Linked DNA regions of Homo sapiens. The protein of the gene in region 1 interacts with the protein of each later gene in a pairwise test. Each region holds a gene or a part of one and is shown in the gene's direction. Other genes may lie near its edges.

Evidence for each region.
Region 2: the proteins of TAL1 (region 1) and DRG1 interact in a two-hybrid assay, tested with the Homo sapiens proteins (one study listed by BioGRID and IntAct).

What each region holds. Positions count from the first base shown.
Region 1 is NC_000001.11:47,222,086-47,229,369, reverse strand, and holds part of TAL1 (T-cell acute lymphocytic leukemia protein 1), read left to right. Parts: intron 1-18; 5' UTR 19-174; intron 175-3,480; 5' UTR 3,481-3,481; coding exon 3,482-3,927; coding exon of another isoform or gene 3,928-4,104; intron 4,105-5,271; coding exon 5,272-5,366; intron 5,367-7,284. UniProt on the Homo sapiens protein: Implicated in the genesis of hemopoietic malignancies. It may play an important role in hemopoietic differentiation. Serves as a positive regulator of erythroid differentiation.
Region 2 is NC_000022.11:31,430,320-31,434,952, forward strand, and holds the end of DRG1 (developmentally-regulated GTP-binding protein 1), read left to right. Parts: intron 1-3,552; coding exon 3,553-3,652; 3' UTR 3,653-4,133; downstream 4,134-4,633. UniProt on the Homo sapiens protein: Catalyzes the conversion of GTP to GDP through hydrolysis of the gamma-phosphate bond in GTP. Appears to have an intrinsic GTPase activity that is stimulated by ZC3H15/DFRP1 binding likely by increasing the affinity for the potassium ions.

The sequences.
Region 1 (7,284 bases):
TCGCTTTGGGCGCGGCAGATCGCCCAGGACCACACCGCAGCGTAACTGCAGGCCTCTCAGCGAAAAAGGGGGAAAGCAAAGACCCGGGTGTGCATCCTCTTCCTCGGCTTCCGCCCCTTTCCGGCGGAGTGGAGATCCTATTCAGAGGGGCCGGTCTCTCTAAATATGCCCCAGGTGAGTTTTCAGGGGAATGGTGCCGGTGGAAACGGTGTCTAGGAAGGCCTTGTGTTCCGGCCTGGGGTGAGGAAGGCTCAGGACAGAGGAGAGCCCATTCTCAGATTGGGGGTGGGGGGAGGGGAGGACCAGCCAGAGCTTGGAATCGGGATCTGACTGCTGTAGCTGCCTCTGTGGCATTCAGCGGCTTTTTCCCTTTTCCACCCAGGGTAAAACCAGCTAGTTGGACTTAGTCGTCCAGGCCTTTCCCATTGGTCCCGGTTCTGTGGACGTTTCCCAAGGCCGGTAACTTTGGGGCGGCTGTATCCGGGTGGTACAGACTGTGCCTGGAGCTCCCGCAGGAGGAAGGCGGCAGCCTTCCTGGCTAGTGCAGTCCCAGCTCGAGTGGGCCCTGATCCCAGGCCTGAGGCCTAGGGTGGGGAGGCAGGAACACCCCTCTTCTCCGGTAGAGGCGAGGATGGTGGTGCTGTTCCCTGGTGGGTTTGGTACTTGTGCAGGCTTGGGGCTTCTCCAGGGTGTTGTGCTGGTGTGGGCCCAGAAGAGAGACCAGAGGCTGGGTCTAAGGGCCTGAGGCTGTTTTCATCTAAGAAATTCTCTGTATGGGGGATTGGGTCTGCTTGAGACCTGTCCCCAGGAAGAATCTCCTGGGGTCTTCTGTCTTGTTCTGGCACAGGTGGAAATATTCTGGCTGTCTGGCAACTGCAGATGAGGATTTCCTGTTGGGGGCTATAAGCAGGGTCTCCGTAGTACAAAGAGAGAGGAGCTGTAGTCGTCAAATACTCTAGAACGATTCAGTCTAAAATCTCCCTCCTCCTTCATTCTCCCCAAATAAAAACAAACAAAATCTCTCGGGCGTTCCTTTCTGTAATCCAAATCAAGTGATGCAGCTTAGTCGCCAACAACCATCAGTGTTTGTGAGTGGCTTCTTTGGGGCATGGACCTCTGGCTGGTAATCCTAAACCGGCAGGATTTTCCTAAAATGTGGGGAGGAGCCGGGAGAGGTCCTCCACAGATCCTGGGATCCAATCATATATTTCTTACAAGGAACCTTGGCGATGGGATATTTATAGGTGTCTGGAGAGGACATTTGTGGCCAGGGTCAATTCATCTGGAATATGTACTCCCATTGCCTCTCAGGAATCCACCGCTAGAGCAGGAGCCTAAGAATTAATTGGAGGGTAAAAATGTGTCATAACAGAGCTTGAGCTCAGTCTGCAACTGCAGTGCACACTGTCACTCGGTTAGAAGCTGGGGCTTAAGCATGGATCACTGGGCTCACACCGGTGTGTCAGGACGGAGAGCAGTGAGGTAGGGAACCAATACCTTGAAGCTTGTATGTTTCCCAGGGGTTGGTATATTTCTGGCACATTTCGCTGCTGCTGGGAGCAAGAGGACCTGGCTGATATACTTCTGGTGCATTTCCAGTGGCCTTGGTGTCTTGGTGGTTGCATTCTATGGATAGAGACCTATTGTCTCCACCAAAATCATAAACTCACTTCCAATGAAGTGTCAGGGACCTACTGCCTTTACAGCTTGTATACACCAGGACTTAGGGAATTTTGTGGTTTCTGTGCCAGACCTGGGGGGCTGGCATTCCCAAAGAAGGTGTACAGCAGTCTGAATCTTGACTCTCTGTCATCCTGGGTGTCTAGTGGCAATTGAGCCAAGCTCCAGAGGAGGCTGCAGATGATCCATTCTCCCTTCTGGGGTGGGAGGGATGGTTCCTAGGATGACTCCTGTCCAGAGCATTGCAGTGGCAGTATGGGAGCTCAATGGCTGCTATGTATGATTTAGATGGACTCTGCATGGGGGTAAATTGTTTTTTTGTATTTGTTTTCTTCTTTTAAATACCCAATTATATAATTCAGAGAGCAGAAAGCTTATTTTAAACAACTTATGTGGTGTTGATCATATATGTACAACTCACAACTCACAAACTCTGGCCCTTGAGTCTCCTGATTTTTCTGTTTTGGTTCTTGCTGGTGCCCAGCTCTATCTGGATGAAGCCAGGTGATGGAAGAGCCCCAGCACACCTGTGGGAAGTAGAGTGGCTGTGGTCATCTCGGAGTATGCTTGTGGGGTCACAAGGTGGTTTCACTGCTCTGGGAATACAGGAGGGTTGAGCAAAGTGAGATTATTGCTCTGGTCTGGCTCTCTCACAGATAGGCTGTGAGTGACTTGACATTCGGCCAGGCAGTTTTCTCACTGGCCCATTCTCCTTGTTAATAATGTTTACTTGAACGTTTGCACAGCACTTTCAAATGCATAAAGGAGGTATTCCTCCCATTTCCCAAAGAACACCAAGGCAGGAGATGGCGGTGAGGGGGGCTGGAAGAGTTCAAGGGCCTCATGACATCCTGTCCTGCTCTTGGATGGGAGTCCAGACCCCACTGGCCTCAGGGAACCCTTCAAATGCCCAGCTCCATTCTACCTCAGCCAGGCCTCTCTTTGAGACTCGACCTCACTTCAGAGTCCAGCTGAGCAGAACGAGGTGGACTGTGCAGGGAGGTTGGGCCAGCACCATCTTCTTCCCTTGGCGACCTCTCATCTCTGTCTGAGTGGGAGTAAAGATCCGCTGGGCGGGCAGAGGACTCACAGTGGATTTGCTCAGTGTAGACAGACACTCCCTCACTCCCCAGCGGGGGCGAATGTGTGTGTGTGTGTGTGTGGAGGGAGCTGGTTCCTCGGGATTATTCTCTGCCAGCTCTGGCGGAGTGGATCCCAGTCCCCGTAGCCTCCACTTTCTAATTCCCTACTTCCATCCGCACCGGGTTTCTGGGTGTGTGCCTGTAGGTGGGCTGGGAATATTGCTGAGAGGCCAAGGGAGGTTCCTAAAGCAACGAACCCCTGCCTGACAGATTCCCCGCTAAAACCAAAGAGCACGATCCGGAATTTGTTCCCTCCTCTTCCCTTTAGGCCTGAGAAAGGGGACAGAGTAATCTCTTTCTTGCCTCCTTGTACATTTCCTTCCTCCTGATTTCCCCTTCTGTGTTTCTGTCGCTGGCTGTATTCCTTTTCTTCCGGTGTCTCTGTCGTCTTCCTCCATCTCTGTCCTTTTGGCCCTCAGTCTCTGTGTCTCCCAGGCACCCCTCCCTTCTCCCAATCCAGAGACCCTCTTTCCCTCCCACCCTAGCCCCAACCGGCCTCCCGCCCTAGCCCCACGTGGCGCTAACTTTGTCTGCCTCTTCTCACGTCTCGGTGCGTGAGTTCCTCTCTCTGCCCTTCTCCCCTTTACCCCAGCCCACGTCGGTGGGTCAGGGGCGGTCGTCAGAGCGGGCATCCGCTTGTCTGTCTGTCTGCCCACAGGATGACCGAGCGGCCGCCGAGCGAGGCGGCTCGCAGTGACCCCCAGCTAGAGGGACGGGACGCGGCCGAGGCCAGCATGGCCCCCCCGCACCTGGTCCTGCTGAACGGCGTCGCCAAGGAGACGAGCCGCGCGGCCGCAGCGGAGCCCCCAGTCATCGAACTGGGCGCGCGCGGAGGCCCGGGGGGCGGCCCTGCCGGTGGGGGCGGCGCCGCGAGAGACTTAAAGGGCCGCGACGCGGCGACGGCCGAAGCGCGCCATCGGGTGCCCACCACCGAGCTGTGCAGACCTCCCGGGCCCGCCCCGGCCCCCGCGCCCGCCTCGGTTACAGCGGAGCTGCCCGGCGACGGCCGCATGGTGCAGCTGAGTCCTCCCGCGCTGGCTGCCCCCGCCGCCCCCGGCCGCGCGCTGCTCTACAGCCTCAGCCAGCCGCTGGCCTCTCTCGGCAGGTCAGGGGCCAGGGGCCAGGGGCCAGGGGCTGGGCGGGTGGGCAGGGCGACCACCCCCACCGGGGTTTCCTTCTACACATCGGCGGCGGCCTGCCCTGGGGGCCGAGCGGGTGGAGCGCAGGGAGAGGAGGTCGTTTTAAACCCAGTGGCTCTAGAGCCTCAAGCTGGAGCCCCCGAGTGAGTGCCAGTGAGGGAGGGGCCTTCTGTGAGAGAGAGTGTGCGTGTGGCTGCGGGGTGCATGGCTGTGTGGAAGCCGAGAGGAGGACGTGGACACCTTCGCGGGTGCAGGCATGTGGCTGGTGTGCTTGGTGGTGGTGTCGTGGGGGACGGAGAGGAAGGAGTCCCCTGAGCGTGGGTACCAGGAAAGAGTGTGCCTGCATGTGCTTTGCTGTGAGCAGAGGTAGATGTTTGTGGTGTGAAATTCATTCGGAAACTCAGCGCTAGCTGGACAGGCAAGAGATAAGGATCTGAGGGTGGTGGCAGAGGCACCCTCCCCCGAATCTCTGCTGGAGGGCCCGCCTGAGGACTGACCTGTCCCTCCACTCCCAGCCCCTCTGCTCCTAGCCGTGGTCTCTGGCCCCAGCCTGTACTCCGGTTGGTGTCAGGGCATCCGTTTCCCTGCTGGCGCTACTGTGATGATGAGGGAGAGAAGCCATAGGGTTGGAATAGAAACCGGCAGATGGGGCAGGGATAGAGTGTGGGGCAGTCAATGAACCTGGCGGGCACCCGAGACAGAGCTATGGGGAGCTTAGGGTGGGTGAGGGCAGAGAGCTAGGCGGAGCATTTCAGCTGAGGGGAGTCAGGGTTTCCTGTCTGTTGTGTATCTACAGCCCCTTATGGGTGGGGTGAGGTGGGGAGAGGGGACAGTGTGCCCCTTTGTGGTGACCAAGATGCACACCATCAGGTGTGAAGGTTACATTTGCCTGAGTGGGCATGTGTTTGGGAGTGGAGGTGTGTGTGGATTATGTGCTTGTTTCTGGGGCGGGAGAATGGAGAGTGTTTCTATCTGTGAAGTGTGTGTGTGTGTGTGTGTGTGTGTTCATTTTTGTGTTTATTCCATGTGTTATTCACCTCTGCTTCTGCATATGTGCCTGTGTTTGTGTGGAGGGATGTGTGGTTAGGTGTCTTTTCCTCCCTTTGCTTGTTTTATGACAGACAGAGTGAGGGCATTCCGTGTGTATGTGTGTGTGTGTGTCTGTGTGTGCCTATTCCCAGCTCAAGTGTGAAGGGACCAGGGTTGCCCAGAGGTGGGGGGCTCAAGACATGTGGGGAGGATCCCTAAGGAAGCTCTTTCTCCCCTCCCCTCAACATGGGATCTTGTGATCTGCCCGTTCCCTCCCACAGCGGGTTCTTTGGGGAGCCGGATGCCTTCCCTATGTTCACCACCAACAATCGAGTGAAGAGGAGACCTTCCCCCTATGAGATGGAGATTACTGATGGTGAGTCTGCCCCACCCCACCGTTGTACCTGCCCCTCACGCTGGTTAGAGCCCTCTGGAGGAGGGAACATCTGGGACTACTCCGTAGGTATCTCACAAAGATGGGCGGGCCACTTTCCAAACCCAAACTGCCGAAGCCCTTCACCCTGCAGCTGAGCTAGGGCTAAGTAAAGTCCTGGATGGGGCTAGCAGGACCACACTCACAGTCCTGCAAAGAGGAGGCATGGGAGAGAGACACATAATGGCGCTTAGCCCAAACCTCTGGAGTTAGTTCCCAAACCTTTGGAGTTAGTTCCAGTCCCCAGTCCGGGCTCCATTCCTACACTTTGGCAAGGATCCCAAGTGGGCGCAGAATCACACAGTGTCCCCCGATCCCCCATTCTAGGCACTGACCCTCAGGGATTCCCTGCACTTCCTCCCAAGTCTTCCTTAGAGTCTGGAGTCTGCTTCCTCCCTGCAATGGAGTCATCAAGGGTTTTCTCCGAGGTCCCTACACAGTAGGCTCCCCTTGTCTCCCGTTAACACATTCTGGGCTTAGACCTGGAGTTCCCTTCCTGACATCATGGATTCTACCTTGCCCCCTGGATTCCCCGAGAAGGGCCTTGGCACTGCTCCTTTGAGGTACTTGAATATTCCCTGAACTTGCAGGGGTGGTTTGGACAAATGGGAGATTTGGAAGACCCTCGCCATCTTTCCAAGGTTGACCTTGTATAGTAGATTGGTCCCAGCACCAGGGGTAGGAGAGCAGGCACTTCAGAGCTGAGGGACTTTGAGCCAGACCCAGATGCCCCCAGAACTTCAGCTTGGCTGTGGCCTGGGGCTCCTGTAGGAAGGCTGCCCAAGGCCTCAGAGCAAGGCTGGGATTTATGCTCCAAACTGGTGGGAGGAATATGAGTATGGAGCTGGAGCCTCTGGAGTGGAGCCCTCTGTGGTGTTCTGGAGAGGAGCGGGGCTGGGATCTGCACAACAGAAAAGACTTCAAAAGACCCAAGCAGCCTGGGGCACAGGTGTGCAGGGCTGAGAGGCAGGGGTGCCTTCTGCTAGATTAGAGAGGAGTTCTCTAGTCTAAGAGAGGTGGGTGTACCAAACAGGAAGAAGACAGGACCAGCCCTGAAGTTCCCCAGGGATGAGGCATTTTCTACAATAGGCAGAAGAGGCAGAGCATAGGGGCGAGGGTTTGTGGGGTGTGCAGGAGTGTAGGGCAGTCATTATCCATAAGTGTTGGCAATATTTACCGAGCACCTACTCAGTGCTGGCCAGAGAGAGGCAGAGGACACCAGGAGGGGTAGACAGACTCAGGAAAGAGGAAGGTGAGGAGAGGGGGTGGTTCTCTGGAATAAAACCAGAGAGGAATAGGCAGACATGTAGGCGAAGGGTAGGGTATGAGTGTGCAGGATGTGTCTAGGGGACACTGAAATTAGAGATTGAACCCAAAAAGAGTCCATAGAAGTAGAACTAATGCAAGATCTAGAGTTAGGACTTGATGTGGATTCCTGTTGCTGAATTGCTACTACCATGTATTGGACACCTACTATGTGCCATGGACTATGTGTGCTTGATTTCTGTTTATTCCTTACCACAAGCTCATGAGGGCAATATTATTGTTTACATCTCACAGATAAGGAAATTGAGGCTGAGAGAGGTTACCCAGCTTGATCAAGGTCACACAGCTAAGTCCTGGGTCACACAGCTAAGTCCTGGACCACCCTCATAACACTGGTCTTAAGCTTTGGAATAAGTCCTGACCACTTCCCCACCATCTCCCCTTCTGGATGTAGTCTAGCTCCAGCTGTGACAGCAGTCATAAGTACCCCCTCCCCAACTAGGAGCTCCCTCAAGATCACCAGCATTAGCCATGGTGGAGGGACTGTCCTCCCTATGTCACTGCTGAGGGATGCTCTCTGTCTGGCCTGGAGGCC
Region 2 (4,633 bases), on another chromosome or scaffold:
TCATTTATCCATCTTTCCTAAAAACCATGAGTTTATACTGTTATCTCTGATTCTAGTTCAATACTACAGGGTTAATTTTTTTTTTTTTTTCTTTTTTTGAGATGGAGTCTCGCTCTGTCGCCCAGGCTAGAGTGCAGTGGCGCCATCTCCGCTCACTGCAAGCTCTGCTTCCCGGGTTCACGCCATTCTCCTGCCTCAGCCTCCTGAGTAGCTGGGACTACAGGCACCCGCCACCACACTCGTCTAATTTTTTATATTTTTAGTAGAGATGGGGTCTCACCGTGTTAGCCAGGATGGTCTTGATCTCCTGACCTCGTGATCCGCCCGCCTCGGCCTCTCAAAGTGCTGGGATTACAGGCGTGAGCCATCATGCCCGGCCACTACAGGGTTCATTTTAGCCTTCCCACTTAGTATTATTTTTGAGACAGGTTCTCTGTCTCCCAGGCTGGAGTGCGGTGGCTCTGTCACAGCTCACTGCAGTCTCGACTTCCCAGGCTCAAGCGATCCTCCTACCTCAGTTTCTGAATAGCTGAGACCATAAGTGTATGCCACCATGCCCAGCAAATTTTTTTTTTATTTGTAGAGACAGGGTCTCCCTATGTTGCCCTGGCTGGTCTCGAACTCCTGGGTTCAAGCGATTCTCCTGCTTTGGCTTCCCAAAGTGCTGGGATTACAGACACTAGCCACTGCACCCGGCCTTCCCCCCCCCCCCCCGCTTTTTTTTTTTTTTTTTTGAGACGGAGTCTTGCTCTGTTGCCCAGGCTGAGTGCAGTGGTGCGATCTCGGCTCACTGCAAGCTCCGCCTCCCGGGTTCATGCCATTCTCCTGCCTCAGCCTCCCGAGTAGCTGGAACTACAGGTGCCTGCCACCATGCCTGGCTAATTTTTTGTATTTTTAGTAGAGACGGGGTTTCACCATGTTAGCCAGGATGGTCTCGATCTCCTGACCTCGTGATCTGTCCACCTCGGCCCCCCAAAGTGTTGGGATTACAGGCGTGAGCCACTGTGCCCGCCGCACTTTTTTTTCTGAATAGGAAAAAGGGTTAAAAACAAAAGAAGAAAATAGGGCTAGGTGTGGTAGCTCACGCCTGTAATCTCAGCACTTTGTGGCCAAGGCAGGAGGACTGCTTGAGTCCAGGAGTGTGAGATCAGACTAGGCAATATAGTGAGACCCCGTTTTTATCAAAAATAAAAAAATTAGCCAGACATGGTACCAGGCACCTGTGGTCCCAGCTACTCAGGAGGCAGAGGTAGGATTGCTTGAGCCCAGGAGGTTGACATTGCAGCGAGCCAAGATAATGATCATGCCCCCTGTACTCTAGCCTGGGCAGCGGACTGAGACCCTTCCTCAAAAAACCAACCAAAGAAAGAAAAAACTTGTTTCTGATCCTAAGAGTACTGAGAGAGTGAAGTCCTTTATTGACCTTCAGATCCTTACATATAAAACAACTATATTCCACATGTAAGTGCTAATTTCCACCACAGTCAAAACATTATGCTTTGGCAGTTACTTTAACTGGTAAAGATGACTTTTGTAAAAAGTTAAACACTGTCCTTTTTCAAACTTTGTAGATTTATATATAGCTCTTTCCTTCTATGGTGGCAAAACATTGTTCAAAACCTTCAGAACTTTAAATTTACCAGGGAATTAAAAAGGGGAGAAAAATGTCTCAGATAAGAAACATATCGAAGCAAACAGGATTTTATTTGCTCTTATTTTACTGTTTTTTTTTTTTTCTTTAATTATTGCACAACTATCTTTTTGGTTTTTTTGAGATAGGGTCTTGTTCTGTTGCCGCCCAGGCTGGAGTCCAGTGGCGTAATCGTGGTTCACTGCAGCCTTGAACTCCTGGGCTCAAGCGATCCTCCCACCTTAGCCTTTTAAATAGCTGGGACTACAGGTGCAAACCACCATGCCTGGCTAATTTTTTCTATTTTTCTAGAGCTAGGGTTTCTCCATGCTGCCCAGACTGGTACAACTCTCTTAATAATAGAAAACTTTCATCTTCAGGCCTAATTAATTATAACATTTATCCCTTTTCCATTTCCTTCATGTCCTTGACCACACTGATCCCTTACTCTGTGCTTTGTGTTTTTTGTGTGTGTGTGTGTTTTTTTTTTTTTTGAGACTGAGAGAGACTCAGTCGCCCAGGCTGGAGTGCAGTGGCGCGATCTTGGCTCACTGCAACCTCCGCCTCCCAGGTTCAAGCGATTCTCCTGCCTCAGCCTCCCAAGTAGCTGGGACTATAGGTGCGCGCTACCACGCCCAGCTAATTTTTTTGTATTTTTAGTAGAGATGGGGTTTCACCATGTTGGCCAGGATGGTCTCGATCTCTTGACCTCATGATCCGCCCGCCTGGGCCTCCCAAATGCTGGAATTACAGGTGTGAGCCACCACGCCTGGCCTAATTTTTGTATTTTTAGTAGAGACAGGGTTTCACCATATTAGCCATGCTGGTCTCGAACTCCTGACCTCGTGATCCGCCCGCCTCAGCCTCCCAAAGTGCTGGAATTAGAGGCATGAGCCACCGTGCCCGGCCTGGAATATAGATTTTTTAAAGAGGTTTTGACTCAATGATAATATAACAACAATATGGCCACCTTTTTTACTCTTGGTACATAGTTCTTAGTCTCTGTGAGGCAGGTCTCGGTGTCTTATTCACCAGTTTTCATCTCTAGCACAACATATTCTTAAGTTTGGAGGCCCATGGATATAAATTACCTTCACATATTCCAGTAAATCGGGAGGACATATCAATTACAGTTTCTGGTTAGGGAGGAAGATTTTCCTGGCATGGCTGAAGAGGGAGGCCCTAATTTCTTGTCAGTACCCACTGATGGTTTCAGGAAACCCAGCAAAAACAGGTATTCTCTAACAGTCTATAAGTGATATTGTATCTGTAAGAATCAGTCTGAAATTTTCAGGGTATTTCTCTATGAAGATTAAAGACGGATTTTTTTTTTTTTTTTTGAGGCGGAGTTTCGCTCGTTGCCCAACCTGGAGTGCAACGGCATGATCTTGGCTCACTGCAACCTCCGCCTCCCGGGTTCAAGCCATTCTTCTGCCTCAGCCTCCCGAGTAGTTGGGATTACAGGCACCCGCCACCATGCCCAGCTAATTTTTGTATTTTTAGTGGAGACGGGGTTTCACCATGTTGGCCAGGCTTTTCTTGAACGCCTGATCTCAGGTGATCCGCACCCTTCGGCCTCCCAAAGTGGTGGGATTACAGGCATGAGCCCCTGCGCCCGGCCCAGAGTATTTCTCTATAACAAATCCATGCTTTCTTTTAATTTTAAACTAGGCTCTTTATACTAAACATGTTTTTTGTCTTTGACTTTCTGCAATAAGAGGAACCACACAACTTCCAGAAGTCTTTACCGGCTTTTATGTTAAGGCTTCAGTGTCTCATGCTGCTAGGGAAGATAAAGCTTTTGTAGGTCTATGGTTCTTAAGGGTATGATACTAAATCTGAGCAGAAGGGTGGCATCCAGGCAAATAGGGCAGAAGCTAGGTTATTATTTACACTGACTGTTCTTTTTCCCTTCCATGCAGTGCTCTGGTCTGGGGTCTCTCTGTGAAACACAATCCTCAGAAAGTGGGTAAAGACCATACGTTGGAGGATGAGGATGTCATTCAAATTGTGAAGAAGTGAAACCTTTCCCTTTTCCCATCTGCCGGACGAACCACAACAGCGTTCCCCATGATCAAGCACCCTACCCCAGTTCTTTCTGGTTTTGGCAGTCACTGGATCAGGATCCAGGGGAGGGAGATGGAGGCACCCAAACTGGAACTTCATTTGTCTTACCTTGGTGTCACCTTGTATGTCGAACTGCATAAAAGATCTGGTAGGCTGGTCAGCTACATGCAGCTCATGTGTCATTGTCAGAATTTGTTTTGGGATGGGCTGAATGAGGAAGGGTATATACGGTGAAGCAGCTACAGAAGGGATCCTTGGGAACTTCATCTTGAGTGTGAAATGGATAAAAATATGACATGCTGCATCTTACTTGATGTTTACTTATGGGAACCCCTTCCAAACTAGATATGGCTTTCAGTCCTTTCAAGTAGTCTTTCCCACATGATACTGGAGAGAGGAAGGACTTTATGTAAGTTAATTGATCACTCCCCGCAAGGCTAACCTATTTTGGGAGATCATGTAATTAAGTACTCCGACCAGGCAGATCAGGGTTTGAAATTGCAGGTCCACCTCTAGTTAGCTGTGGAGCCCTGAACAAATTACCCAACCTTTATGAGCCTCAGTTTCCTCATGTAACATGGGGATAGTAATAGCACTTACTTTCTGCGGTGGTGATTGTTAGTAATGGAGGGAGATGGTACTTATATGTCAAATACTGTGCTAAGCAATTTGTAAGTACTCAATGACTCTTGGCTTTTGTTGCACCGAGCCTTTTACTGGGCTGTCTGCCCTATGCAGAGCACAGCTGTACATCATCAGTGTTGGGTTGAATGTTGAGCTGAACTATGTTGCCACCTGGGCCACTAAAATGCTTTTTTCTTTTTCTTTTTCTTTTTTTTTTTTTGAGATGGAGTTTCGCTCTTGCTGCCCAGGCTGGAGTGCAATGGCATGATCTCGGCTCACCGCAACCTCCGCCTCCCGGGTTCAAGCGATTCT